4 linked regions of the Homo sapiens genome follow. The protein of the gene in region 3 interacts with the protein of the main gene of each other region in a pairwise test. Each region holds a gene or a part of one and is shown on either strand. Other genes may lie near its edges.

Evidence for each region.
Region 1: the proteins of CLEC17A (region 3) and CTXN3 interact in binary tests that used the Homo sapiens proteins (3 or more experiments, as listed by UniProt).
Region 2: the proteins of CLEC17A (region 3) and UPK2 interact in binary tests that used the Homo sapiens proteins (3 or more experiments, as listed by UniProt).
Region 4: the proteins of CLEC17A (region 3) and OLFM4 interact in binary tests that used the Homo sapiens proteins (3 or more experiments, as listed by UniProt).

The regions. Positions count from the first base shown.
Region 1 is NC_000005.10:127,645,068-127,652,106, reverse strand, and holds the start of CTXN3 (cortexin-3), read right to left. Parts: upstream 3,026-7,039; 5' UTR 2,719-3,025; intron 365-2,718; exon of another isoform or gene 286-364; intron 1-285.
Region 2 is NC_000011.10:118,951,862-118,959,081, reverse strand, and holds UPK2 (uroplakin-2 precursor), read right to left. Parts: upstream 2,785-7,220; 5' UTR 2,732-2,784; coding exon 2,656-2,731; intron 2,200-2,655; coding exon 2,068-2,199; intron 1,875-2,067; coding exon 1,736-1,874; intron 1,485-1,735; coding exon 1,414-1,484; intron 986-1,413; coding exon 849-985; 3' UTR 523-848; downstream 1-522. UniProt on the Homo sapiens protein: Component of the asymmetric unit membrane (AUM); a highly specialized biomembrane elaborated by terminally differentiated urothelial cells. May play an important role in regulating the assembly of the AUM.
Region 3 is NC_000019.10:14,593,075-14,600,099, reverse strand, and holds part of CLEC17A (C-type lectin domain family 17, member A), read right to left. Parts: intron 5,584-7,025; coding exon 5,551-5,583; intron 5,469-5,550; coding exon 5,418-5,468; intron 5,342-5,417; coding exon 5,300-5,341; intron 4,827-5,299; coding exon 4,785-4,826; intron 3,225-4,784; coding exon 3,087-3,224; intron 3,002-3,086; coding exon 2,939-3,001; intron 447-2,938; coding exon of another isoform or gene 409-446; exon of another isoform or gene 384-408; coding exon 288-383; intron 70-287; coding exon 1-69. UniProt on the Homo sapiens protein: Cell surface receptor which may be involved in carbohydrate-mediated communication between cells in the germinal center. Binds glycans with terminal alpha-linked mannose or fucose residues.
Region 4 is NC_000013.11:53,038,810-53,045,834, reverse strand, and holds part of OLFM4 (olfactomedin-4 precursor), read right to left. Parts: intron 3,926-7,025; coding exon 3,713-3,925; intron 2,731-3,712; coding exon 2,571-2,730; intron 1-2,570. UniProt on the Homo sapiens protein: May promote proliferation of pancreatic cancer cells by favoring the transition from the S to G2/M phase. In myeloid leukemic cell lines, inhibits cell growth and induces cell differentiation and apoptosis.

The sequences.
Region 1 (7,039 bases), on a different chromosome or scaffold from region 3:
AAAATCAGCCAGAAATTGAAAGTTACCCTTTTATTTAAGAGGTCAATTCTTTCTTACCTAATCTACTTTTTGGTGGGGAAGGGCAGCCATTTAAAATATCCTGAATCCAAATGTCTTACACAAAAACTATTAATGTCAACATGTACCCTTCTCAGGCTTGGATCCCTTGGACATTTTATTTCATTAGCATCTCATTATACAATTTCACAGTAAGGAAAAAATACTTTCTCTGAAGAAAATGTATCTTAAAGCAATGACATGTTTCTTTTCTTTTTTTTTTTTAAGTGACAGCGACAGAATTACTTAAGTGCATTGGACACCTTGTTCTGTGGAGCCACACACAGGGACTTGATTCTACAGGTCATCAACTCAAGAGCCCACCCTTTTGCAATAGGGTGCAATGATCTAATTAATAGTTGCAGTACCTGTGTAGTCCTGCCTGGCACATAGTGGGGATTTGATAAGTAGGTGGGGATGAATGAGTGTTTTCTTTTTACACCATTTTTGTGCAAAATGTTATTTATTTTTAATTTCTATTATGTGATCAAGCACACTAAGGTATGAAAATTATAAATAAACTGCCCAGAATTATAAAAATCGTTACCAAAAAGGTAGCACCACCCCCTACCACCCCAACGCCAAATGATGGTAGATCCCTAGTTTTTCACTGGCACGTTGGAATGAATTGAAGGTGTCATCCCTCAGGTGTTAACGGCCTGTAGGGTGCAGTGAAGCAATGCTGTCTGTATTTTAAATATTCCTAAACCACATAATTGCAGTACCTAATTTTTAAAACTTCTGGATCAGAAACCTAGTTACGTGACTTGACGTGGTTTCAAAAGTAGGTGTCAAAACAGCCCATCCATTGAGCAAGGACACTCTTGGGCTTGTCCAGTTTCCATTCACATGTGATAGACAGGACACTTTATCCTGCAAAGATATACTATCAACCTTATTTATATTTATCTGGCAGACTAGCGAGACCAATCTTTAGACTTTAACAGGAACGGAATTGCCTAGCTAGGCAGGACTGAATTTGCGGTGACCAACAGAGACAAACTTACTCAAAATGCTGCATTATTCTGCAACAGTTCTGAAGTTAACTGTGGAAATGTTAACATGGCTTTGAATGATTCAAGTAATACACATCCTGATACTGAGCCTAAATAGAATCCCTCTCTACTTTTAGCACTAAAGGAAGCCTGGGCTGCATTCCTGTTTGTATAACTGTAGTCTCTCAAAGTACATTTCATTCTCCAACCCACTCACCCACCCTAGATGTGTAAATCTCCCAAATGATCCTATTATCCATCCCCACCACAACTGTGAGTCATCTGTATAAGCCACCTCGTTATCTAAGCAACAGAATCACCACATAAGCAAATATTATTCCCCTACAAATCTTTTAGAAATTCTGTGTATTATTCTAGTGAACAGTAACTTGCATTCAGGATATACACACAAAGATACAAAATATTTCATATAAATTCAAAGAATTCATGGCCCTCTTGCTTACCAGCAAAGAACTTCAGGTAAAGATTTCCTGGCTCTTTCTAGGTGTTTCATAGATTTTAAATCCTCCCACTCCCCTTGTTTTTGGCTCATATACACGGCAACATCTCTATATTTTTTTCCAAGTACAGCCCTCCTGTTCCAATACAATAGCCCTGATGCTTCAAAATTCAAAGGGGGGCTAAGGGTAAATATATTTTATACTCTCAAAACATAGACTCAAGTCTACTAGAAAGCCTACGAACAATGATTTCATAAACATGAGGATGTCTTCAGCTACAGATGTCAACAGGCAGTTTCAGAACTGTTGCCAGCCCCCACTGCTGCACTGGGAAGTCTGTTCTCTGCTTGTTTCTGCAAAGTCAGCCTGCAGACACGTCTGCTTGGGCTGGGAGTGGACCCTGTTATTCTCAACTCACTGCTGCTTTTAAGCTCTGGGTCAGCAGGAGACCTTTGTCTTCAGCCTCAGCCCCAATCTCAGCTTTACTTCTTCCCCATCTTCATCTTCCTCTTAATATCTGCTTGAGGAATTTTTAAGGGACTGCAGGGCAAGGCTACTGCCTAGCTGAGAACATCAGAAAACACCATGAGGGTGCCTAGTCAGGAATCGGTGGTATCAGAAGGCACCCTTAACGAACTGGAACTTTTAACTTCAAATAATAAGCCCTACTGTTCCACCTGGTTTTCTTTGTCTTTCTTTGTGTGTTTCATAGTGAAAACGGCTACTTGCTGATATCTCAAAAGGATAGTGCTGCACACAGCTTATCAGCCAGGGACAGTCAACGCTGTCAATATGAGTGGTTGAGTTGTGATCCTTTGTAAACAAATCAGAACATCCTTGTTACATTTTGGAAGGTTGGACGTTTTAGGTGACTGAAAAAAAAAATACGATAATGGGCAAACAGCTTTCAGAAATAAATTACTGCAGCTTAGGAAAGAAAAAAAAGCCTGTTTTACTACTTCTTCATCCAGTATCAATAACATTATAAACTTAACCATGCTTTAAAAATAAAGGCATCATTACATTTTACCCCCTCGCTTCTTAACTTTATCTAGCAATTGTTTAATTAGACTTATCTAACAGCTAGATCTAAATTCACAACTATGATCCGAAAGGCATGTATGCGATGATTGCTCATGCATCAATTGTAAAGTTAGAGAAAAGCATTTAATTAGCCCGTCAAAGATACAGGTTGGGTCAAGTACCTGGCTCTGGCTGAACAAACACTTGATCCATTTCCTGGTGGAACAGTTACAGGTAGTTACAAGCCTCTTTAGTTTCCATTCTTCCCGACCACGCTGTGTGAAAGCAGTAGACAGTGGTAGCTGCAAGGCAGCTGATGGCACACCCCAGGTCTAAAGCTGTTGTTTCAGGCTTAGAAACTTCCCATTAAAACCCCGAGTTAAAGGAGCATCGTCTTTCTGTGTGAGGCATCATTAACGGCCAATACTGCTGCTTCTTTGAGGTGAGCCATGATTTCAGTTCTGCCTCAGCAACTCTTCAGAGGATTCTGCTTCAGCGAGTAGAGGCAGTATCCTAGCAGTGTGTCTGAAATCATCTTCAAGAAAGCATTAACATTCAAAAGGAGTACGGGGTTGGGGGGTGGGGAAACATCACAGGCATTCCTATACCTTTTCAAAATCAAAGCCATAAATCTACCAGTGCTCTGTCCTCTTTATTGATTGTTGACACTATTCCTCTTTGGGAGTGTCAATTAGCACGTCGCAGCAAGTCTTCATATTGATTATTGTTGATGACCTTCAGGCCAACTCAATTAACAGGAAGACTTCTGGGGAAGGGCATCAACTTAGCATTTGGGAGAGGGAGAAAAGGCTCATTTTCCTAAAGAAAACTAAAGTGACCTTTCCAAAAAGCAGCATTTATGGGAAGGAAAGAACCATTTAAAAATATCAAAATCATAGTTTCACCACCTGTCACCTGCTTGTAAATTAGCTGGGCAGTTGGTTGCCAGGTCCAGTGTCTCTCTGAGCAGCCTGCATAATTGTGGCATTGGGAAAGCCCCCACCCCACACAGGGCACCTGAGACCACTCGATGAATAAAGAAGATTGATTTTTGTGAGAGAAAGTTGTTCTCATTCTGCAGATTCTAGTTACTTGCTACAATGCTTAAATTACTTTCGTTGGATAAGTAAATTTGGAAAATATTTTAGGATAAAATTCTTCATTAAAAAAACACTTCTCTAAGAAGAATTCAGCCTAATGCTTAAGACGGAGCATCCTTGTTTTTTGGCAACTCACCACTTTCTTTGTTGAAGTGGCGGCACAGTTAGCGACAACACACCCACCCACCAAATGATGGGGTGCGTGATATTTAAAGCTGCCTCTGACTGTGCCTGTCAGCTATGCTGTCTCCTCAGCTCTTGTGAGCAACCGGCCATTACCCAAAGGCTCTAGGAAACTGGAACCAAGCTCATCTTCTAAGAGGGAAACCCCATCTGCTCACAACGGACCACAATCCTGGATAGGATAGGCCTCGGACCCCAAAGGAACCTTTCAAATCAAATGCTAAATGTTAGGATCGAATGCTTGATGTTAGAGTCTAACCTCAAGACAATATGCAGGTTCTTTCCCCATTTGTTTTCCTAATTTTTAACTGAATTTTCTTTCCAATTCATTTTACTTACCCTATTTTCAGACACACACATACCACACACCGTAAGACAATGGGACACATGAAATCCAACTGAGCACGATCATCCTGTACTAACTGGCATCCCTCTTGCATTTAGTCAATTCTGGCAGAGGGAGTGCCTGTTTTGGCAATGCCAACAGAGTGTGGTTGAGGAATCTTTCCGACCTCACCCTCCTTCCTATAATTATCATTCCATGCGGTGAGAAAATATCATAGTTAGACATGAGCCTGGGTGACTGTAGCTTACCCTGCCAAAGAGGCCTTCTCGGATATGGTTTAGCCTACAGACTCGTAGAGGGAGAAGGGAACCTGAAAAGGCCTGGGGCTGTCCTCTAGCTACTCTGCAGGCTGAAACCATCCCAGAGAGATGAGTGCCTGGCCTATTTTAAAAAGTCTCCAGAGAAGTAGATGCCATAACTTCCTCTGACAACCTCTGTTTAAACAAACTCCTCTGCTGCTTACTTAGTCTAAATGTGTTGGCGCATTTCTTTTCATTCTGTCCTTGCTGCAAAAAGTCAGGCACTAACCACTCCAAAATTTTGTTAGAATGCCCTTTCCTTTCAGAGAAGCCGAACTAGATAAACCAAAGAGTATTTGATGAAGATCTGGTGTTATGCTTGGAGCTAAATTTAAACCTTTCTTCTTAAAGATAATTATAATGGAAATTATTAAAATCAGCCCTTCCCCTTATGCAGCTATATTATGTGAATCATCATGAATTCTAAAACAATGAATAAGGGTTTACCAAAGTTCCATTTGAACATTTTATATTAGATCCTATTTCTTTCGCTTTTAATAATCTTTATATCTCTTCTCTGAATTCTTAAAATTTCTGCTCTCTGGTGCAACATTAAATAGGAAGCCTAGAATACTATACCGAGCTGTACACAGCTCAGATACACACGGAATTGTGATGAAACAGGATGATTTTATGATGTATAAATGGCTATATATGCTGTGCTTCTACTTACCCATTCTGATCCAGGGCCACTCCTGGGTGTAACTTAGTCTTTCTCTTTAGTTACACAACATCATGAGTTATTATTAGTTAGAAATCTACTTTAAAAACTTCTACATTTTTATTTCAAGCCTCACCTTTAATGTTCTTTAATTTGCAATTCTTTCCTAAATGTCCTATGATGCACTTTTCCATGAAGAAATAGATAATGAATCTGAAAAAAAGACTATAAGCCATCAGTCTTCATGCCAGTACAAGGCTGTATTATTATTATTACTGTGTTTCTGTCTAACTCTGCCTAATTCTCAAAATAAATTGAACAAAAACTCTATATAACTTTCAAAATATAAACATGGTTCTTATCAATAGACTCTTTGTAAAAATCTTTTCTTCTCTCCTTTGTGTATGTCCTTTCTTTCACTTATCCAGGGATCATTCATTAGCTCTCAATGTCAGATATGTTCTGTGTTAGGTGTTGCAAAAAATAAACAACACGAATACTGGGTCCTGGCTTCTGTTTGTTCAGGTTGTGCACTGAACAACTCTAGGAGATTCCTTGGTAAACAGGGCCCTGAGGAGCTCCACTTCTAGCGATGGTTGCTGAGCTTCTTGACAGACTGGCCCACTTCCACTAAATTCCAATTCCTAACCTTCCCAACCTCCCCCTTCATGGCTCACCCAGCAGACATCTGAACTGTCTCCTCACCTTTCTACAGGACCTGATTTCACAAGGTCACTAGTGGCTTCTGGTTGCCTCAAGCCAAAGAGTCCTTTTAGTGTTCATCTTCCTTGCTTTTTGGCAACATTGAACACAGCTGAACACTCACTGAAAGGAAGGTTCAGAAAAAGAACACATGGATTAAAATGAGTGGCGGGAACATATATCTCAGCCCTTAGGCCCCTCTCCCTTAGTGCCTTCTCTCTTCATCGCCTCTCTATTGCACTCTGGGGTTCAGGCCAAATAAAATTCATGCAACTACCAGCAAATGGGAAATGAAGGTGGAAAGACAAGCAGGCTAGAATACATGTTAATAACCCCGCCACTTTTTAATTCATTTTAAAAAAGTGCTAGTCAGTTTATGTGTGTTATTTTTATTTCTGTCTTCTTGTTTTAAAAAAAATATATCAGGCAACATAAAGCTTTGCTTTAAAAAAAAAAAAGTCAAGATTAGCTCTATTTCTAAAATCTCTCTGATTTGCCAGGTCTAAGTTTATTTATCCATTCAGCTATCTTCACAGATCAGTGAACATTCAAAGCTTAAGGGAACAGTGGGAAAGGTTTAATGATATTCACACCAAGCCTATACATTGGGATCTATATTTAAGAGCTATTAAAAGCAAGCAGGTTAAAGTCCAACTGCAGATTGGCAGCCTCCTTGTTTGATCTTTTCTTGAATGCATTTCTGTATATATCACATCTGTTTTAATGCTAAATGCTCAATTAGTAGCTGATACATCTAGAATAGAGAAGCACTCAAAATGAAGACGAGAATGCTGCAACGAAGTGGAAATATATGTGCAAGAAAAAAAACACTGACAGAATTTAATACTTGTGAGGATTATAGATTGCCCTATAAAATTTTGTTAATCCTTTCCTGTATAAGTAAGAACAAAGCATATAGCTAGGTGATGAATCATGCTGCCAAAAAGCTGATCTCCAACCCTAAGAAGGAGCAGCTTCACAAAATACACAGCAGTAGTTCTATTTAGAAGCAACATTTGCAACATTTAAGTTATTAATTCTAATTACAGTATAAAAGTATAAGGACATCACTATGGATTATTCACTGTTCAAAGGAAATACTTTGGCTCTAACAGCCTGGTGGGTAAATTTATTCTTTTAAAGTGACTTGTACAATAATAACAATTTTCTTAATGGGTTTGAAATACTTAATGCCTTTAAAATATCATACAA
Region 2 (7,220 bases), on a different chromosome or scaffold from region 3:
GTTATAGGCACCTGCCCGAACACCTGGCTATTTTTTTTTTTTTAATATTTAGTAGAGACGGGGTTTCATCATGTTGGCCAGGCTGGTCTCAAACTCCTGACCTCAAGCCAGCTGACCGCCTTGGCCTCCCAAAGTGGTGGGATTACAGGCATGAGCCACTGCACCTGGCCTGTCTTTTCCCAGACAGATCCTCTCCTCTTTTCCCTAGCACTTCCCTTGCTCTGCCTGCCCCCCACCCCCACCCCCAGGCCTCCAGGCCTCCACATGGGGCACCAGCCCCAGCTTCTGCCCTGACCTGCACCCCTAGTTGAGTGGCCCACTGTGTACTGTGGATGCTGCCAAACCCACAGCCCCGGTGTGTCTCTGAGAACTCTGACTGCTGGGCTCTTACTGGCCCCTGCCTGCCTCATGGGAAAAGTAACTCTGGGCTGTGGGGCAGGGAGGGGACCAGGAGCACCTGCAGCTTGGACATAGATTCCACAGGTTTGAGCCAAGGTAGAGCCCACTAAAGGGAAACACATGTGGCAGATGCAGCCTCAGCCTTTATTATAGGGACTTAGTTCACTGAAGGATGGGGGAATTGTTATGGGGGTGTTTAAAGTGGTAAAATGGGAGGAAAGTCAACTCTGACAGGAGTGGGGTGAGAGGAATAATGGAGTGTTGGAAGGTGAGGCACTGGGGGCAAGGAGAGGGACAGAGGGAGGAGAGGGCTCTAGGGGAGAGGAGGGCAGGAGGAGGAGGCGAGGGCACCAAGGGAGCCACAGGCCTGGGGCCTGGGAGCAGGTGGGCTGGGGAGCTGGATGGTGCCCTGGGCTTCCTGGAGAAGCTGCTGCTCCGGGCAGACCTCCTTACTTGCGGGAGCCCAGTGCCAGGGCAATGATGAAGCCCAGCACCAGCAGGAACATGGCGACAGAGAGCAGCACCGTGATGACCACCATGCCCCCTGTGCGGGCCATACCCAGCCCAATGGATTCCATGTTCCTTCCTGTCAAAAGAGAGGGGAGACCACTGTGGGCGGGAGAGACCCCCAGCCTGCCTGAGGCTCACGGCCTCACACTCATCCAGCCAACAGACTGCCCAACCAACCAGCCAGCCAGCCAGCCAGCCAGCCAGCCAACCAACCAACCAACCAACCAGCTGATGGATCCAAACACCCATCACATAGACATTTATGAAGCATCTCCTATGTCAGCCGCTGAGGAAAAGTTAAGAGGACACAGTCCCTGCCCACGAGGAACCTTTAGCTGAGTGTGCAGTAGCCATGCCGAAGGTTCCGTGCTAGGATAGAGGTAAGCAGGGGCCCCGAGGGCGCACGGGGAGGCACAGGCAACCCAGACTGGGGATGAGGCAGGAATGGTCAGGGAAGCGTTTGTGGCCGCTGAGATGGGAAAGGGAGGCGGGAGTGTTACTTACGAGGGAGTGTGGACATTGGGATCTCTCTGCTGGACTCAGTGGCTGTCCCCTTCTTCACTAGGTAGGAAATGCTTTTGTGGTTTGGGAGAGAGTAGAGAACCCTCAGTGAGTATTGGGACTTACAGGAAGAGGGGCTCCAGCCTGGGCCACCTACCCTCACAGCTGTGTCTCCCCTATGTGCACTCCTCCAAGAGGCCCAGCTTTCACCCCCTTTTGCTGTGCCCTCACCCTCTCCTCATGCCCACCAGATCTCCCCCACACTAGCTTCTCTCTCTTCCTGCACCCCCTTCCCTAGGTGCCTCAGGCTGGACCCAGTACCTACTAGAATTTGGTTCCTGGCACGAGGTTTGTCACCTGGTATGCACTGAGCCGAGTGACTGTGAAGCCAGCACCACTGTCCACCACACTCACCAGTTCCCTGCGCCCACGGCACGGAGGCACCACAAAGCTGGACGTCACCACTGGGCAGAAGTGGCGGGAGGGGAAGACTGGGTCAAGTTTCTGGAGGCCCCAAGGAGAAGGGGCAGCTTTTAGAGTGTGGGTACCCCAGGAGACGGGTGGACAGGAAGGCATGAATGGGGAAAAGGGTGCAGAGGGTGTCGCAGGAAGGGGTCTTTGGGGACTAGAGGGATGCCTTGGGAGAAGGTAGCAGACCTTTGCTGTCATTGGCTCTCCGGACCATCAGTGTGGCATTGCCTCCTGTGAGGTGACAGGGGGGCAAGGCAACCAGCAGGCTCTCCGTTAGCGCCGGGGACAGCAGACCAGAGAGGCTTGAGATGTTGAAGTCTGATGGGAGGCAGGAGGGAGCTCCGATGGGGACTGACCCCTCCTGGCCAACAGATCTGGCCCGGTCCCATTGGAGCCATCTCCCTTTCCACTCTGTGAACCCTGGGCAGAACAGCCAGGCCTGTGCCAGTATGACCACCAGGTGGCAGGCTTGGGCTGCAGAAGCTGCACCCTCCACCAAGCGGTCCCCAGAGCCAGAACCTGGATGCCAGGAGTCGGGCAGCGCCCAACCTCACCCCTCCCCGCAGCATCGGATCCTTGCCCACACCTCTCTGCCTCCTAGGTCTGGAGGAGGATCAGGAGTGTACCCTGAGCCCAGTGTCTGATACCCAGTCACTGCCATCACCAGCCCTGACTCCCAACTGTCCAGACCTCTCTTTGAGAGCCCTGGAAGGTACAGTGCTCCCTGTCCAGGCCCCCAGCCCCCTTCCCACCCCTGCCAGAGATGGAAGAGACCTGCAGCCCCTGGGGACAGCAGAGCCAGCAGAATCAGGATCAAGGGCAAGGTCCGGATGGGCAGCAGGGGTGCCATGCTGGGCTGGGAGGTGGAATAGGTGCTGGCAGGCTGGGGTTCCTGAGGCAAGTGAGGCCCTGCCCCTGGGGTGGCTGATTTTGTCCTGGGGGTGGGAGGGGCTGGAGGGGAATCCAGTCCAACCTGCCCCTTGGGCCCTATAGCCTCAAAGGGGTGGGGAGAGCAGACAGGTTTTTCAGGATGGGGAGCTGGCCCTCAGGCCAGGAGGGGGGATGCCCTGGCTGGGTCTTGATGGTGTAACTAAGGTGGGGAAAGAAATCACCCCTTCTTCTGGGACTCCCGTGCATAAGGCAGTGTTCCTGTGTGCACGGGCATCTGGAGACTGGCCAGTCCTTGGAGGACTGCTCCCCCGATGTGGTGGGGGTCTTTCCCCCACCCCTCAGAAGGGTGATGAGTTTGGAAGTTGCCCTGATATGTAGGAAGAGAATACTCCAAGGGGCTACTGAAAGGGCCTTGAGTGGGTAAGAATGGGAGAGAAACATTCTGGTGGGGAGGGGCAGCAGACTGAGGGTTTCAATTCTTGGAGTGCACTGAGGCTTAGGTACTGCTGCTCTGGGAGAGGCAGGGGCTGTGGGGGCCAGGGAGCACATGCGGTTTCAGATTCCTCTGGAGGGTGGGGACGAAGGTGGCCATGGAAGACTTCTGGAGAGACCAGAGAGACAGACATTGACCCTGGCCAGCAGGGGTTGGGGGTGGGCACAGTCAGCCTTGGGCAGCAACCATTTGTTGAACTGAGAATGGAGAAAAGAGACCTCGTAAGATAACATGAAAAAGAGACAGAACTTCCCTGACTGCCTCCTCCAGCCCTGGGCTACATCAGAAAGAAGCAGAGGAGTTCTGAGCAGAGGGAGGGGAGAGGAGTCAGGACGTCTTCCGGGCCCTGGGTAGGGGTTCTGTGTGCTCCATTGTAGCCCTACAGCCACCCTGGGTGGTAGCTGGTACTGGCTTCCTTTTGTAGTAGAACTGAGGCCAGGCACAGTGGCTCATGCCTGTAATCCCAGCACTTTGGGAGGCCAAGGTGGGAGGATCACTCGAGGCCAGGAGTTCAAGACCAGCCTAGGCAACACAGAGAGTTTGATCTCTATTAAAATAGAAAAGAGATCAGCCGGGCGTGGTGGCTCATGCCTGTAATCCCAGCACTTTGGGAGGCCGAGGTGGGCGGATCACCTGAGGTCAGGAGTTCGAGATCAGCCTGGCCAATATGGCGAAACACCATCTCTACCAAAAATACAAAAACTAACGCGGTGGTGTGTGCCTGTAATCCCAGCTACTCGGGAGGCTGAGACAGGAGAAACACTGGAACCCAGGAGGTGGAGGTTGCAGTGAGCCGAGATTGTGCCCCTGCACTCCAGCCTGGGCAACTAAGTGAAACTCTGTCTCAGAAAATTGAGAGAGAGAGAGAGAGAGAAAAGTGGAAACTGAGACTCAGACACATAGAGTTACTTGTGGAAAGTGGAATACTTTGTCGGGAGAGGCTGTAGAACTTCCAGAAGCCTGAGAGCTGTACAGAGACTGTTGCTGTATATCTGTTTGCTCCACGAACTATTCTATCTTCCTCAGTCCCAGGGAAGCTTAGGGTCCTGGTAGGAATGTGAGGGAGGTTGTGTCCTTACCGCCAAGGTGGGAAGGGTAGGCTCAAAGTTTGGGGTGAGTGGAGAATGACAGTAAAGGAAGAACTCATGGGCCTAAGCAGAGAGTAGGAGGGTCTTACGCCAGTGCATCTCCAAATTTAATATGCGTATGAATTACCAGGGATCTTGTTAAGATGCAGCTTCTCATGCAGTCATGCAGTGGGTCTGGGGTGAAGCCTGAAATTCTGCATTTTTTTTTTTTTTTGAGACAGAGTCTCGCTGTGTCACCCAGGCTGGAGTGCAGTGGCGTGATCTCGGCTCACTGCAACCTCTGCCTCCCAGGTTCAAACGATTCTCCTGCCTCAGCCTCCTGAGTAACTGGGATTATAGGCATGTGCCACCATTCCCAGCTAATTTTTGCATTTTTAGTAGAGATGAGGTTTCACCATGTTGGCCAGGCTGGTCTCAAACTCCTGACCACAAGTGATCCACCCGCCTTGGCCTCCCAGAGTGTTGGGATTACAGGTGTGAGCCACCGTGCCCAATCAATTCTGCATTTCTAGTGACTTCCCCGTAACACTGATGATGCCGGTCTGAAAGGCCCACACTTGAAGTTGCCAGCTGCTCTGTATTGGTAAACAGCATCCCCACCCCCAGCTGGATCCTCTTCCACGGACATCAGGGATCAGGGCAGGTGTTCCTTCCCAATCTGCCCGAACAGGCTGCTTTTGGGTGAAGAATTTGGTTCTGTTTTTCCTGCACCTTGGCTTTTGATTCCACCACCACTGCACAAATGGAAAGAGGGTCTCTTGCACATTAAGGACAACTTGGGAGAGAGGGGACAGATTAAATGGTGGAATGCCAGGGTGAGGGGATCTTCCTGGTACTCCTCAAAACCTGTCACCCACCAGTAAGTTGTTTACACTTGAACTGGGAGGTCTTTCTCCTCATTCACAACCAAGAAGCAGAAAGAAGAGGTTGGGTTTATTGCAGGGTGGGTTGAGTTGGGTCCACTCTTAAGCCCCCATCCCCATCTAAAATTATGAGTGGTACAGAGTGGAGTAGGGGAGGGCAGATCTCTGATCAGATTTTAAAGGGATAAGAGGGCCCTGTGCCTTTAAGCTCTCCCTTCTCCCTCCAATCCCCCCCCCCCACCTTCCCCACCCCAGCCCTCCCCAGGTTTCTGGAGGAGCGGGGAGTTGCGTCTTCTCCCTGCCCTGCCGAGCTGCTCACTGGCTGCTCTGGAGGCTGTGCTTTGCGGTCTCCATGGAAACCATTAGTTGCTAAGCAACTGGAGCATCATCTGTGCTGAGCTCTCGCATCTAATTATCCCATCACAGCAGCCGAGAAGGGTTTGGGGAGCTGAGAGGAGGGGGAGGCCAAGCCCAGGAGCAAGAGGATAACTCTTTTAGCAGAGCAGATTCATTGACAATGCTGAAGTCAGTTAAAGCCACAGCACCATGTTCCTCTGGAGGATTTCCCAATGGCTTGGAGTAAGGGAACCAGGGCCACATGCCTGAAGTCTCTGTCTTGGACCCACTCTTTCTAGGCTGTCTCCTCCTTGGATTCTTGATTCTAAACTCTCTTGAGTTCCCTCCCCTGCCTCCTCTCTTCCAAATCTCCTATTCAAGCACTCCTATTGCGTACCAACTATGTCCTTGGAACTGCACTAGCCACCAGGGATATAAAGGTAAGATAAGTCTCTGCCCTCAGGGAGCTCTTAACAGCTCTAGTCTGCTCAGCCTAGAAGACTATCTCCTAAAACAAACTTCTTTCTGGACTGTGGCACCTTTTTTTTTTTTTTTTTTTTTTCACTTGAACTATGGCAGTTCTTCAACCAGGAGAGCTGGGATCAGAACCCAGGTCCGTCTGACATGCCCAGGGTTCTCCTTCCAGAGTGCCACTCTCTGCCTCCCAGTCAATTAGAAAAACATGTCTACTTGGCTGCATGGCCATGTCAGCCTCTGATGGCAGCTACTGTCCTCTTGTTGATGAGATACCATGTAACTTTAGGTGGACTTCAATGTTCTCACATTTAAAATGGAAGACTTGGCCAGGTGCGGTGGCTCACGCCTGTAATCCCAGCAGTTTGGGAGGCCGAGGCGGGTGGATTACCTGAGGTCAGGAGTTTGAGACCAGCCTGGCCAACATGGTGAAACCCTGTCTCTACTAAAAATACAAAAATCAGCCGGGTGTGGTGATGCATGCCTGTAATCCCAGCTACTTGGGAGGCTGAGGCAGGAGAATCGCTTGAATCCAGGAGGTGGAACTTGCAGTGAGCTGAAATCATGCCACTGCACTCCAGCCTAGGCAACAGAGTGAGACTCCATCTCAATAAAATGAAATAAAAAATGGCAGACTCACCAGGCACAGTGACACATGCCTGTCATCTCAGCACTTTGGGAGGCTGAAGTAGGAGGATCACTTGGGACCTGGAGTTTGAGACCAGCCTTGTGACGCAGCAAGGCTCCATCTCTACAAAACTGAAAAAAAAATTATGGCCAGGCGCTGTGGCTCACAGCCTGTAATCCCAGCACTTTGGGAAGCCAAGGTGGGAAGATTGCTTGAGCCCAGGAGTTCAAGACCAGCCTGGGTGATATAGTGACATCTCTTCTCTATTAAAAAAAAAAAAAAAAAAGCCTGGGCACGGTGGCTCACGCCTGTAATCCCAGCACTTTGGGAGGCTGAGGCGGGCAGATTATAAAGTCAGGAGTTCGAGACCAGTCTGGCCAACATAGCGAAACCCCGTCTCTACTAAAAATACAAAAAATTAGCAGGTATGGTGGTGTGCGCCTGTAATCCCAGCTACTTGGGAGGCTGAGGCAGGGGAATTGTGTGAACCCGGGAGGCGGAGGTTGCAGTGAGCCGAGGTCCCACCATTGCACTTCAGCCTGGGTGACAGTGCGAGACCCCGTCTC
Region 3 (7,025 bases):
TTGGGGAGAAGTAGTAACACTTGCCCTCAAAGGGCAGCCAGCCTTCAGGACAGGTAATTCGGCGGCAGTCTGGGAACCAGACAGAATGCTGTCAGGATGGCCCCAGAACCTGAGCCATGTACATAGTATGCCATGTACAGTTGTGCAGGCTGTACACTGCTCAACTCCGGTGAGGGGGAGGGGCACCATTCACATAGACTGCACTGAGAATGACTTCAATGGAGTGATGTAATGTGCCAGCTCTGCCATGCCCCCCATCCCTGGGCAATTCCCCAAGTCTCACTTACCTAATAAGCCCCAAAGTTCCACCAGGGACTGGTTGGTGTCAGCTCTTACACGGGCAATGTCATGCTTCAGGCCAGCTAGCCCTGCCATGCCAGTCACTGTCAGAAGGGATGGGCTTGAGGGCTACAGACTGAGAACCCATCCTACCCATCCACCACGGACTGCAGACACATCAGAGAGAGAAGCAAGGGTTGTGTTCCCCACTGTGTCCACATTCCAGTGGGTCACGCTTGCGCTCAAAAACCACATGTACAGTGCTCAGAATCCGAGAATGGCTCAGAGGAGGGATCAATCCCGGGGATGTGGGGAAAAGTAGGGGTGGTGGGCACCCTGAAAGAAGTGGGTTTTAAAGGAAGAAAGTGATTCGATAACTGTGAGGTGAGGAAGAGGCACATTAGGCAGGGACTATCTTAAAAGCAAAGATGCAGGCTGCCCATGGTGGCTCACACCTGTAATCCCAGCACTTTGGGAGGCCGAGGTGGGCGGATCATCTGAGGTCAAGAGTTCAAGACCAGCCTGGCCAACATGGTAAAACCCTGTCTCTACTAAAAATACAAAAATTAGTTGGGCGTGGTGGTACATGCCTGTAATCCCAGCTACTCAGGAGGCTGAGGCAGGAGAATCACTTGAACCCGGAAGGCAGAGGTTGCAGTGAGCCAAGATCACACCACTGTGCTCCAGCCTGGGCAAGAGAGTGAGACTTCATCTCAAAAAAAAAAAAAAAAAAAAAAAAAAGCAAAGATACAGAGGCAAGTATGTTGTGGTGAGGCGGCAAAGCCTATAAGAGTGGAGGGAAAACTCAGAAAAGCTTGAGATCAAAGCAGAATGAGCTCAGATGCCTGGATCCTTTATTTTATTTTTTTTAGACACAGTCCTGCTCTGTCCCACAGGCTGGAGTGCAATCGTGGTTCACTGCAGCTTCAACCTCCTGGGCTCAAGTGATCCTCCCACCTCAGCCTCCTGAGTAGCTGGGACTACAGGTACATGACATCATGACTGGCTATTTTTTTAAAATTTGTTGTAGAAACAAGGTCTTGCTAGGCCGGGCGCAGTGGCTCATGCCCATAATCCCAGAACTTTGGGAGGCTGACGCAGATGGGTCACCTGAGGTCAGGAGTTCGAGACCAGCCTGGCCAACAGGGTGAAACCCCATCTCTACTAAAAATACAAAAAATTAGCCGGGAGTGGTGGCAGATGCCTGTAATCTGAGCTATTCAGGAGGCTGAGGCAGGACAATCACTTGAACCTGGGAGGGGGAGGTTGCAGTGAGCTGAGATCGCGCCACTGTACTCCGGCCTGGGCAACAAGAGCAAAATTCTGTCAAAAGAAAGAAAGCAAGAGAGAAAGAAAGTAAGAAGGAAGGAAAGAAGGAAGGAAGGAGAAAGAGGGAGAGAAGAAAGGAAGGAAGGAAGGAAGGAGAAGGGAAGGGAAGGAAGGAAGGAAGAAAGGAAGGAAAAAGAAAAAGAAAGAAAGAAAGAAAGAGATAGTGAGAGAGAGAGAGAGAGAGAGAAAGAAAGAACAAACAAACGAAAGAAAGTCTTGCTGTGCCCAGGCTGGTCTTGAACTCCTGGCCTCAAGGGATCCTCCCACCTTGGCCACCCAAAGTGCTAGGATTACAGACATGAGCCACTGTGCCCAGCCTAATATGTGGATCCTTGAATGCCAAGCTAAAGGTTTCACCTTGGACTCTGGACAATGAGAAGCCATTGATGGGTTTTGAGCTTGCTTGTTATGAAGCATAGGGTGAGGCAGTGTGGAATGGAGAAATATTCAGACTTTGGCAGTCATGATGAAGGCCAACCCAGGTCAAAAGATTCTTCTATAATTAACGTGTGTATTATCACTACTCCCCCACGAACTCTTCCCTTTTTCAACACTCGCTAGCTCAGTAGCTGGCCCTTCAGTTGGACAAAACAGAAACACAGGTTTTAGGCCAGGCACGAAACACTTCAGGAGGCTGCGGCAGGAGGAATACCTGAGGCCAGGAGTTTGAAACGAGCTTAGTCAACATAGTGAGACCTCTTCTATACAAAAAAAAAATTTTTTAACCAGCCGGGTGTGATGGCATGCGCCTATGTCCCAGCTACTCAAGAGGCTGAGGCAGGAGGATCTCTTGAGTGTGATCATGGCTCATGATCAACCTCAAACTCCCTGATTCAGGAGATCCTCCCACTTCGGCCTCTTGAGTAGTTGGGATGACAAGCACACACCACACACCACCACACCCGGCTAATTTTTTTTAGAGATGGAGCCTTGCTGTGTTGCCCAGTCGGGTCTCGAACTTCTGGCCTCAAGCAATCCTGCCTCAGCCTCCAAAAGTGCTGGGATTACAGGCATGTGCCACTGCACCTGGACCAGTGTGTATTTCATACTTAGTGCTCATCTCAGTTTGGACTGGCCACATTTCAAGTGTTCAACAGCCACATATGGCTTGTGGCCACCATATTGGATGGTGGAGGTCTGGACACATATACACATGCACACTTCACACAGTCAGACAAAGACTGTGTCTGACATGTTTACCATTTTAACCCCCTGGTACCTAGCACAGTGCCCAGCAAAGATGGGGATGAGGTTGGATCTTGGAGTTGGATCTGAGGATTGGGTTAGGGCTCAATAGGAGTGGCATGAAGGAATGACTGAAAGCACTCACTATTTGTTCGCCACGTCATCTGCTGAAAGCTTAACATTCTCAGTTCTTCCATCAACTCCTGGTCTATGAAGAAGAGTCCAAATTGAGCCCAGGTCCTCCTGTGCACCCTCCCCAATCTCTCCCCATGTCCCTTCCTGGCCCTACTCACACTTAATCAGGGTCACAGTGAGACCAAGGCAGCCCAGGAACAGGGAAGTCACCACCAGCAGACACAGGTACACCATCCACCTCTTCTGGCAGCAGCCAGGACCTCCAGACCTCTGATTGAGCCAGGGGACTGGAGTTGCTGGGGAGTGGGGATGGGAACAGAGAGACTGATACTGGGGCTTCAGAGAGTAAGGAAGAGACTCTTAAGTCTTTGTCCAAGAGCAGGGGGCAGAAGTCTGTAGTCATGACTGTTTCAGCAGATGAAGTCAGCAAGAGAGGGTTAGGGAGAGTGAACCCTGGGGAGGCTCAGGGTCTTTTTGATGCATTTACGGTGCGCTAAGCATCATGTTGCATCCTTCTCTTTTTCCTTCTTTCCTTCTTGAAACAAGGTTTCACTCTGTCATCCAGGCTGGAGGGCAGTGGCACAGTTATAGCTCACTGCAACCTCTAATGCCTGGGCTCAAGCAATCCTCCCACCTCACCCTTTCAAGTAGCTGGGTCTATAGATGTGTGCCACTAGGCCCAGCTAATTTATTTTATTTTTTTGCAGAGATGGGGGTCTCGCCATGTTGTCCAGGATGGTCTTGAACTCCTGGCATCAAGAGATCCTCCCTGCTTCAGCCTCCCAAAGTGCTGGGATTACAGGCGTAAGCCACTGTACCCAACCTACATCCTTCCTATCTTATTGGAGTCTCATCCTTATGATGTAGGTTATAAGCATTATTCCCATTTTGCAAGTGAGTAAACTGAGGCTTGGTGAGGTTAGGCATGACTTGGACACAGCTTTGTTCTTAATATCTATGATGCATCATCTTCTACTCTCCAGAAACCCCTGACCAAGTTGCTCCTAGGTCAAGGAAGCTTGTGGACCCCGGCTTCTAGAGCAGAGAACATTTCCCATATCTTATGCAAGCAGATACCTGAGTTTCTGGAGATCTGGCCTAGACTCAGAGAGGAGAAGCTTCTTTTTCTTTTTAAACATGGTCATCACCAACACCATCACTACCTCCACCATCACCACCATCATCTCTACCAACAACATTGTCATTGTCAACAATACCATCACTGCCTCTACTATCATCACCAACACCATCACCACCAACACCATCACTACCACCACTATCATCATCACCATCTCACTAACACCATCACTACCTTCATCATCACCACCACCACCATCACCAACAATACCATCACTACCTCCGCCCTGCATTACCACCATATCACTGTTTCCACCATCATTACCATCATCAATACCAACAACACCATCACTATCTCCACCATCACCACCATCATCAGTATCTCCACCATCACCATCAGCACACAACAACGCCATCACTACCTCTACCATCGTTACTACCACCAACCATCCTCTTCCTTTCCATCATCTCCTTCCTCATCCTTCCATCACAATCACCAACAGAACCATAAGTACATCATCATTATCAAAAACAAAACAACCACATAACTCTGGTCCTCAGAAGGACAAAAAAGAATACACGTTTGCAAACTCTGATGTCAAGGAATGGCTTTCTCACTTAGAGCAGCGCTCACTAGACTAACTCAGAACAGTGCAGCAGGTCCTGAAGGAGCAGCTTCTTAAAGGAGAAGTTCCTCTGACTCAGGGTCTCACTGTAGAGCCATAGGTCTCAATCAGATACACTAGCCACTGTCAGAGGGGAAATGGGAGGACACTTACCGGCCAGGGATGGCTGCAATGGAGAAGGCTCAAGATTCACAGCTGGGAGAAAGGGGGAGAGAGGTTTATTCAGAAGATGCCAAAGACTCTGTCTTCCAAGATCAACAACCTCTGTTTTGTTCTCTGGTCAGAATTTAGGGGGCTGGCTGTGGGCAGTGGCTCACGCCTGTAATTCCAGCACTGTCGGAGGCTGAGGCGGGTGGATCACCTGAGGTCAGGAGTTTGAGACCAGCCTGGCCAACATGGCAAAACCCCATCTCTATTAAAAATACAAAACTTAGCCAGGTGTGGTGGTTCGTGCCTGTAGTCCCAGCTACTCAGGAGGCTGAAGCAGGAGAATCACTTGAACCCAGGAGGCAGAGGTTGCAGTGAGCCAGTATCGCACCACTGCACTCCAGCCTGGATGACAGTGAGACTCTGTCTCAAAAAAAATAAATAAATAAAAATTGGGGGATTGAAAGGAAACATCCAGGTATCCCCTCTTAGGCATCTTAAAGGGTCTTCCCACTGCTCACCCAGTTGAGGAGGTGGACAGGTGACAGCGGCGAGGTCCAGGCCTAGAAGAGATGAGAAAGTCATTTCAAGAAGGGCTTCAGCCAGGTGAGCAGGAAGACTCCAACTGTCAGCTCTCACCTGTCATGTTCCGGGGCTTGCAAGGAAGTGGGGGTTTCTCTGTTTCCTTTGCTGAGGAGGGAGGAATGGTTGGTCAGGGCCAGAGCAGGGCAAAGCCAGCTCTGGGTCTCCTACACCCCCAGCCCCAACTCACCTGCCCTTGGAGGTCTTGGTGGAGCACTTGAACCTGGAGAAGAGAAGCTCAGGGTGAGGGCTGGGCTGAGGATGGGAATGCGCCAAGAGGAAGTGATGGAAACAGGGTTAGGATTGCAGTGGAGGATTGGAGATTAGGTTACAGACGGGGTTGGACGTAAGAATGCAATTGGGATTAGGGATGGAGATGGGATTAAGTAGGGTGACCAACGAACCTAGATTGCCTGGGTATCTCCCTATTTTATTTTATTTTTTATTTTATTTTATATTTTTTGAGACAGAGTCTTGCTCTGTTGCTCAGACTGGAGTGCAGTGGCGTGATCTCATCTCACTGAAACCTCCGCCCCCTGGGTTCAAGCAATTCTGCCTCAGCCCCCTCAGCTGGGATTACAGGCGTATGCTACCACGCCCAGCTAACTTTTATATTTTTAGTAGAGACAGGATTCCACCATGTTGGCCAGGCTGGTCTCGAACTCCTGACCTCAAGTGATCCACCCGCCTTGGCCTCCCAAAGTGCTGGGATTACAGGGCTGAGCCACCGTGCCCGGCCATGTTTTTGTTTGTTTGTTTGTTTGTTTGTTTGTTTTATGAGACAGAGTCTCTCTCTGTCTCCCAGGCTGGAGTTCAGTGGCGCGATCTTGGCTCACTGCAACCTCCGCCTCCCAGGTTCACGCCATTCTCCTGCCTCAGTCTCCCAAGTAGCTGGGACTACAGGTGCCCACCACCACACCCAGCTAATTTTTTGTATTTTTTTAATAGAGACGGGGTTTCACCGTGTTAGCTAGGATGGTCTCAATCTCCTGACCTCGTGATCCACCCGCCTCAGCCTCCCAAAGTGCTGGGATTACAGGCGTGAGCCACCGCACCCAGCCCGTGTTCTATTTTTTTAAAGACAGTGCCTTGCTCTGTCATCCAGACTGGAGTGCAGTGGTGCCATCATAGCTCACTGCACCCTTGAACTCCCGGGTTCTAGCAATCCTACCACCTCGGCCTCCTGAGAAGCTGGGACAACAGGCACACATCCCACAACTGGCTAATTTTTTTAATTTGAAAAAAAAAATGTTTTCATATAGCTGGGGGTTTCACTGTGTTACCCAGGATGGTCTCTTTTCTGGGGCTCCAGTGATGCTCCCACCTTGGCTTCCCAAAGTGCTAGAATTACAAGCATGAGCCACCACGCCTGGCCCAAACTTCCCTTTTTTTTTTTTTTTTTTTTTGGTAGAGATGGGCGTCTTGCTATATATTGCCCAAGCTGGTCTCGAACTCCTGGCCTCCAGTGAACTCATGGCTAAGTGATCCTCCCATCTTGGCCTCCCAAAGCAGTGGGACTACAGACACACACCACTGCAACCAGCCCAAACCTCCACTTTTATATCCTCTGATCAGATTCTTGTTGAACCCTGGGCTATGCCTTGGGTTTATTGAGATTCAAGATTAAATAAAGCCCTGGGCTTTGAGTGGTAATGAGAGGAGATT
Region 4 (7,025 bases), on a different chromosome or scaffold from region 3:
TTTAGATTAGAAAGTTCTATGAAATGAGGCAGAAAAAGGACGTTGTTTGTAGCAAAAACCAAATAGGAAGCATATTTTATTGAACCTGGGATACATTCACTTGTTCTAAGTTCAAGCTGACCACTGGGTCAGCAAACTGTAGCTATAAGGGAGGGGGCCCAGAGAGCGCAGAGTTACTTTAGAGCTGAGACTTGCATATAGTCTTTTTTATTCTGTGCAACTCTGCAGTGAAAAAAGCAGACAGGCCAGATTTTAAAGTCCCATAATAGAGAATAACTTTAATTAAAGTCTCCACAGGCTCACAAGTTTGTGGTGCTTGGGGATTTTCCAATTCTGCATTATCAACCAATCCAAACAGAAAGAGAGCAAGTGAAAGAAATTGATTTAAAAACATGACCAAAAGTCAGTTTAATATAAACATCATAAATATAATATGAACAAAGCTGGAAGAGAGCCAAGTGGCTTGGCAGGGATTCAGGTACAGCCAAGGTTGTGGGAAAGTGAGTAAAAATCTGGGTCCAATTTGCTTAAACAACACAGCTGGGCTAGGATGGATCACAGAAGTCTAAGTGTGAGGGCCTAGGGGAAAGTTCTGGGAAAAAAAAAATCCAACAAAAACAACCCAACAGGCTCACTTGTTTTCTTCCCTGGATACTAAGCAATGCATTTTCTCCCCACCGTTGTCCTTGGATTACTGCTGCCTGACACCTTCGGTCCTGAACTGACCAGGGAGCAAAGACCCTTGCCTTGCAGCTTCTGCTCTGTCATTAACTACTTGTGTGGCCTCAGGAAAAGCAGCGTTCTTACCATCCACGTCTTCTCCTCTGAGACAAGACGAGGCTAAGTTAGATGGCCCTGAATATTCCTTCATCTAAAATGTCCTCATTCTAAGGGATGCATAGAAAATTGTGCCAGAAAAATCTATTCCATGAGGAGGATTTGCAAGGGGTGTTGGGGAGCTCGTTCAGGGATTATCAGGAGTTGTCATTGCTTCAGCCTCTGCCTCAGTGAGTCCTCTGTGGTCCACCAGAAACAGCTCTCATTTGCTACATTTTTGCACCACTAATCCCAGACTAAATTTAGCCTTAGTTTATTACAGAGGACAGACCATGTTGTCTGCCCTAAACCTCCTATGCAGGATGCGAAATTTGAACAGTTGTTCAAATTTATGTCACCTCCTTTCTGGAGAAGTTGAAAGGCCATTTCATTCTGGGGCAGGATTCTAACCATTAGATGACACCTGTCATAGTAGGACACACTCCTATTTGCAGAGGGAGGAAAAAAATCCACCTGAAGAAGACCAAGAGGCTTATATCTATGGCTATACCTATTTAATAATTGAAGCCTTAAAAAATCAGTTACAATGACAATAATCCAGAAACACAGTCTAAAAGAAAGCAGGTGTGAGGATTGGAATTCATAAAAATAAAAGGATTGCATGATTTGATGAAAAGATACAGTCCCCACTCAGGCTAAGATGCTCAGGACCTGCAGAGAGAAGGTCCCTGTGTCATTGATATCTCTAAAGGATGGGGCTGAACACTGTGGCTGAGAGGCTTTAGTTTACCTGAAGGAATGCATTGCAGGGCACAGTAATCTGGCACTGCTTTTGTTTTGCTGCAAGGCTTTCGCTTCAATTATCAACATTATTAACAATATCCATTGCCAGCGTGTGAGTGCCGATCATAAGGTTCCGAGCTTCCCAAGCACTGACTCATTAATCCCCACAGCCACCCTGCAAGGCAGGCACTATTATTCTCCCATTTTACAAATGAGGATATTAAGGATCCTTTTTGCTGCAGCCACCTAGCTGAGAAGCTCAGGTCTTTGGAATTCTAAAGCTATGTTCTTGTACCCTACACTCCACTGCCTCTGTTCATGGGTATATTTGCAGAACACCCACCTCTGTGCTGTACTTAACCCCAATGAGAATTCATTAAAGACGAACATGCCACCCCTACTCCAAGAACTCACAATCCATGAGGAATGGCAAGACACACCCACAAGCACATGATATGTGGGGTCATTCCTTTAATCCTCACTGAATCTCAGGACACACAATATAGCAGGTGCTCAGCATGCATTTATAGGAAGAAAAAAGAAAAAATTAAAGAGAAACAGAAGGAGAGAGAGAAGATGGCAGCATCAAAGGCATAAACCCAGCTCATCAGATAAGTGAGCCAATCAGTCCTTAACTCCACAGGAAAGTGGATGCCACACACAGATTCCAGAGGCTTTCCCCTGAGGCCCCTGATAGGGCCTCCATCACCATAGAGATTTTTGTTCCCTGTTAGAAAATGCAAAGAGAATACGTGTAACTCGTGGATTTTGCTTTAAATCAACTCATTGTTTGTGCTCTTCCTCTTTGAAACCCAGAATATGATAGCATGTAGAATACTTGGGAGGAAGGGAATTTTAAAACATGGAAGAGAAAACTGAGAACTGAAAAAAAAAAAAAAAAAACAACCCACCTTCTTCTTTCACCATTGCAATCCCCAATCCCTTCCCCACCCCACTCACAGCTCCTTATGGGGTCTGGCACAAGTGGTTAAAAAAACTGGCATGCTTACCTGGAGTGGGAGGAGGGTGGACGACAGGGGTGTTTTGATCTTTAGAGGCCTCACACTCTTTCAGCTTGGTCTTCAGAGCCACGATTTCTCGGCGAATGGCAAGGACATTGTTTTTGTCTAGTGTCTCAAGCTTCTCTACCAAGAGAGTCATATTTCTTATCTAAGGAAATAAAAATTCAGAGTGACTTTATATTATGGTGCAATTTCTTTCATAAACATTCCAGGGCTGAATTTGTCATTTAGTGAAACATTGCCAGAGAATACACCAGAGATTCTTCTGAATGGTTTCATTTGGAAGAATACATTTTATGGTTTAGCATGAATGCCTGTCAGATCTCAGGCAGATGTGTGTGACAAGAAGAAAATGGCAAAGATTTTAATAGCTTTAATAATAGAGCCCAAGCTCATCCTCAGCATCCACAAATGTCCATTAAAGTTCATTTCTAATAACCTTCCCCTATAAACTTGTGTTTACTCATGTTGTATTATAATTAAGATTCTAATGAATGGTGAGGGCCAGAGAAAGCTTAAATTCTAAAATACGTAACTAGAATTCTCAATTATAGCCCATGTCATGACTGTGCTAGTAAATTTTTGTTGATATAAATTACCCAACCATAACGTTAATGTGATGGTCTTTATCCACAGATCTTAAAAGGCTTTACAGAAATATACAAGAAATTTCTTAAAGGGGGTTTCCAGTTTGCAGAGAAGGATTCCAGGTTATTCAAAAGGAGAAACAAACCTAGCAATTTTACCACAATCAGGTATATTGTGGATTTCTAGTTCCATGAGGATAAATCTAGAGCAGAGAAGACACCTCATATAGCTTGGCCATGAACCGTTGTTCAACTTTATGCCAGCTCCTTTTCAGAGAAGTTGAAAGGGCATTTTATTCTGGGGCAGGATTCTGACCATTAGACAACATCTGCTCCTAAGTCAGCACATTCCCAATGTGCTTAACTTACTATTCAAACACATGCCCTTATCCAAAACAGAACATAGTGATATGCCATGTGGCCATGAGACAGTAGAGAATTAGAAGTTGGAAGAGATAGTTTCACTTCCTGGTACTAGTACTTGCTTACAGTCACTGAAGGGAGTTTATTATTAATTTACCAAGAAGTGAGTTCACTCCTTACCTCCACCTCCAGCTGGTCAACAATTTCTGAGCTTCCACCAAAACTCTCCTTCAGCTGTATGACCAGTTTTTCCATCTCCTTCACTTCTACCTTGATCAGCTCGAAGTCCAGTTCAGTGTAAGAAATGGTATCCTTCTCCATGATGTCAATTCGGACAGTTAGGTTTAACAGTTTCTTTTCATACACACTAATTAATTGGACATATTCCCTCACCTGAAAGAAAATCAAAAGGTTCAAGCCAATTCCCTGAGTAGTATCACACCATCTTCTTCCACTACCGAGCCCTTGAGTTGAGAACTATTTGATTCTTGCCAATCATTGTGTTTTGTAAATAAATAGATCAAAAATACATTTAACTAGATTTTTAAAATCTATCCATATACAAAGAACTTATTACTCCAATTGAAGGGAGGTAGATTTTATACTTTGCTAGGCTAAACATAATTTTGCTTCAGCATCATCATTTGCAGGTATATTTTAATCTCCATTTTTTAAAAAGGTTTTAGGCTCAGGGGTATATACCCAGGTTTGTTATATAGGTAAACTCATGTCATGGGGGTTTGTTGTAAAGGTTATTTTGTCTCGCAGGTACTAAACCTAGCACCCAATAGATTTTTTTGTTGTTGTTCCTCTCCCTCCTTTCACCCTCCACCCTCAAGTACGCTTCTGTTGTTCTCCTCTTTGTGTCCATGTGTTCTCATCATTTAGCTCTCATTTATATGTGAGAACATGTGGTATTTGGTTTTCTGTTCTTGTGTTAATTTGCTTCGGAGAATGGCTTCCAGCTCTCTATCCATGTTCCTACAAAGAACATGATCTCATTCTTTCTTATGGTTGCAAAGTATTCCATGGTGTATATGGCCCATATTTTCTTTATCCAGTGTACCATTGATGAGCATTTAGGTTGATTTCATGTCTTTGCTATTGTGAATAGTACTGCAATGTACACACACGCCCATGTATCTTTATGGTAGAACAATTTATATTCCTTTGGGCATATACCCAGTAAAGGGATTGCTAGGTTGAATAATAGTTCTTTTTAGTTCTTCGAGTCACCACACTGCTTTCCACAATGGCTGAACTAATTTACACTCCCACCAACAGTGTATAAATGTTCCCTTTCCTCTGCCATCTCACCAGCATCTGTTATTTTTTTACTTTTTAATGATAGCCATTCTGGACTGGTATGAGATGGTATCTTACTATGGCTTTGATTTGCATTTCTCTAATGATCAAGTGATATTGAGCCCTTTTTTCTTAATCTCCATTTTAATGTTTGAAGACATTAACTCCCCAAACTAAACTGGTTTGTATCATAGTCTCTTGCCATCTCTCCTCCCTTCAACACACTTACTCTAATTGTTTCTCAACCTCAGCACTGTTAGCATTTGGGACTGGATTGTCATTTCTTGTGGGGGTTGTGCTGTGAATTACACAATATTAAGCAGCATCCCTGGCTTCTTCATGCCAGTTGCATCCAACCACTCTCCAGTTATGATAACCAAAAATGTCTCTGGGCATTGCTAAATGTTCCCTGGGGACAAAATCGTTGCCACGGCCAACACCACCCTCCTTCCATTTAGAAACATGGCTCTACATCTAAGTATTTTCTGGAGAAGGGAGAAATGCGCTATGCCGAATTCCTTCTTTGATCGCCATATACAATTAGTTTTGATCCCCTCTGCCTTTTACAAAGTGGCATAGAGATCCAACCTACTACACAATATGTGAGTGTGTGTGCCCTGTAGAGTACACATTTCATTAAGTGCACCCACATTTATTCCAAGAACTGATTATTGCAATCAGACCTTTAAATTACAGATTTGTTGCATATATTTGAATGTCTGATCATTAAGTTAAAATACTTCCAAAAATTCCCTTGGCAGTTTAGTGTATAATTGGAATATCCAAGTGGATATTTTAATAAACACAGTTGGTGGTTCTTTCTGTGTCTGATCTCTAAAGAAAATGCCATGGCTTTTTTAAGGACCTGCTCATTAAATAAGTTGCTGGCTTTATATGCTTTTTAAAAATTTGAACTGAAGTGATACTTTTCCCAAAACTACACTAATATCAAGTAGCTGATCCACAGTGCCTGGATGAATTTAGAGCCAGATGTTGGCCTTTAATCCTTCTTATACCAAAAGCAATCCTAACTTCTGTCATTTCAGCCCTTCCACTTAACCCCATTGTGCAAATTAAAGTAGACTCATAGACCACAGACCTGAAGGGCTAGGGCTTCAGGCAAAAAGGATTTTAATGAAAGTCGAAAAAACAGTCCTTGGCACTGCTAGTGTATCTCCTCGGGCAACTGATGCTCACTGCCATTGGATGTACCATAACTCGGAGGATGACAAAGCTGGTGATATTTTGGTGGATAGGGAGGTTAAAACATATATACGGCCACCTCTTAGTATCCATGGTGGATTGGTTTCAGAACCTCCCAAGAATAACAAAATTCAAGGATGCTTAAGACTCTGACAGAAAATGGTACAGTATTTGCCTACAATCTACACACATCCTCCCAAATACTTTAAATCAAGTCTAGATTACTTATAATACCTAAAACAATGTAAATGCTATATAAATCATTGTTGTATTGTTTTTTATTTGTATAGTTCCTGTTGTTACATGGTTATTTTTATTAGTTTTTTTCCGTGAAATTTTTCAATCTGAGTTTGGTTATATCTGCAGATGCGGAACCAAGGCTATGGAGGGCTCACTATATATAAAACCTAACAAGTCCCCCTGAGAAGTGCACTGCAGATATAGGGCTGCCAGGTTCCAGTGTCTACAAAACTCAGGCATAAAACCTTGACTATGATAAAAATAAATAAAGTGCCAATCCATTACAGAAATGGAAGTTTGAGAAATAAATATGCTTGTTGGCATTTGGCCTTGCCAGCTCTTGGAACAAATGAAACACCCTCAGCTTCTCTGGAACATTTTGGTGGCACATCGCAGCTGTTGTTCTACAAAAATGAGTGATTCAACTGTCATCTCTGCTAAATAAAATGTGGTTCTCCTAGATTTTCACAAAAAAAAGCAAGGCATATTCTGGAGTTTGTTACCTATAAAAATGTGTGGTGTGCCTGCCCTGGTGCAGACAAAATGAAGGGTCTGTAAAGATCCATTTGAGGAAAAAACTCAAGGTTCTTCAGCTGACACTTAAAGGATGCTCAGTGGTGTTCAGGAAAATGGCAATCATCCATGGAGTTAGAGAAGACACAAAAGAGCTTGGGGATGGGCCAGAAAGACTTCAGAGTGTGAACTTTACTAATTTAAGTAAATCATTCATATGAACTTTTCACAT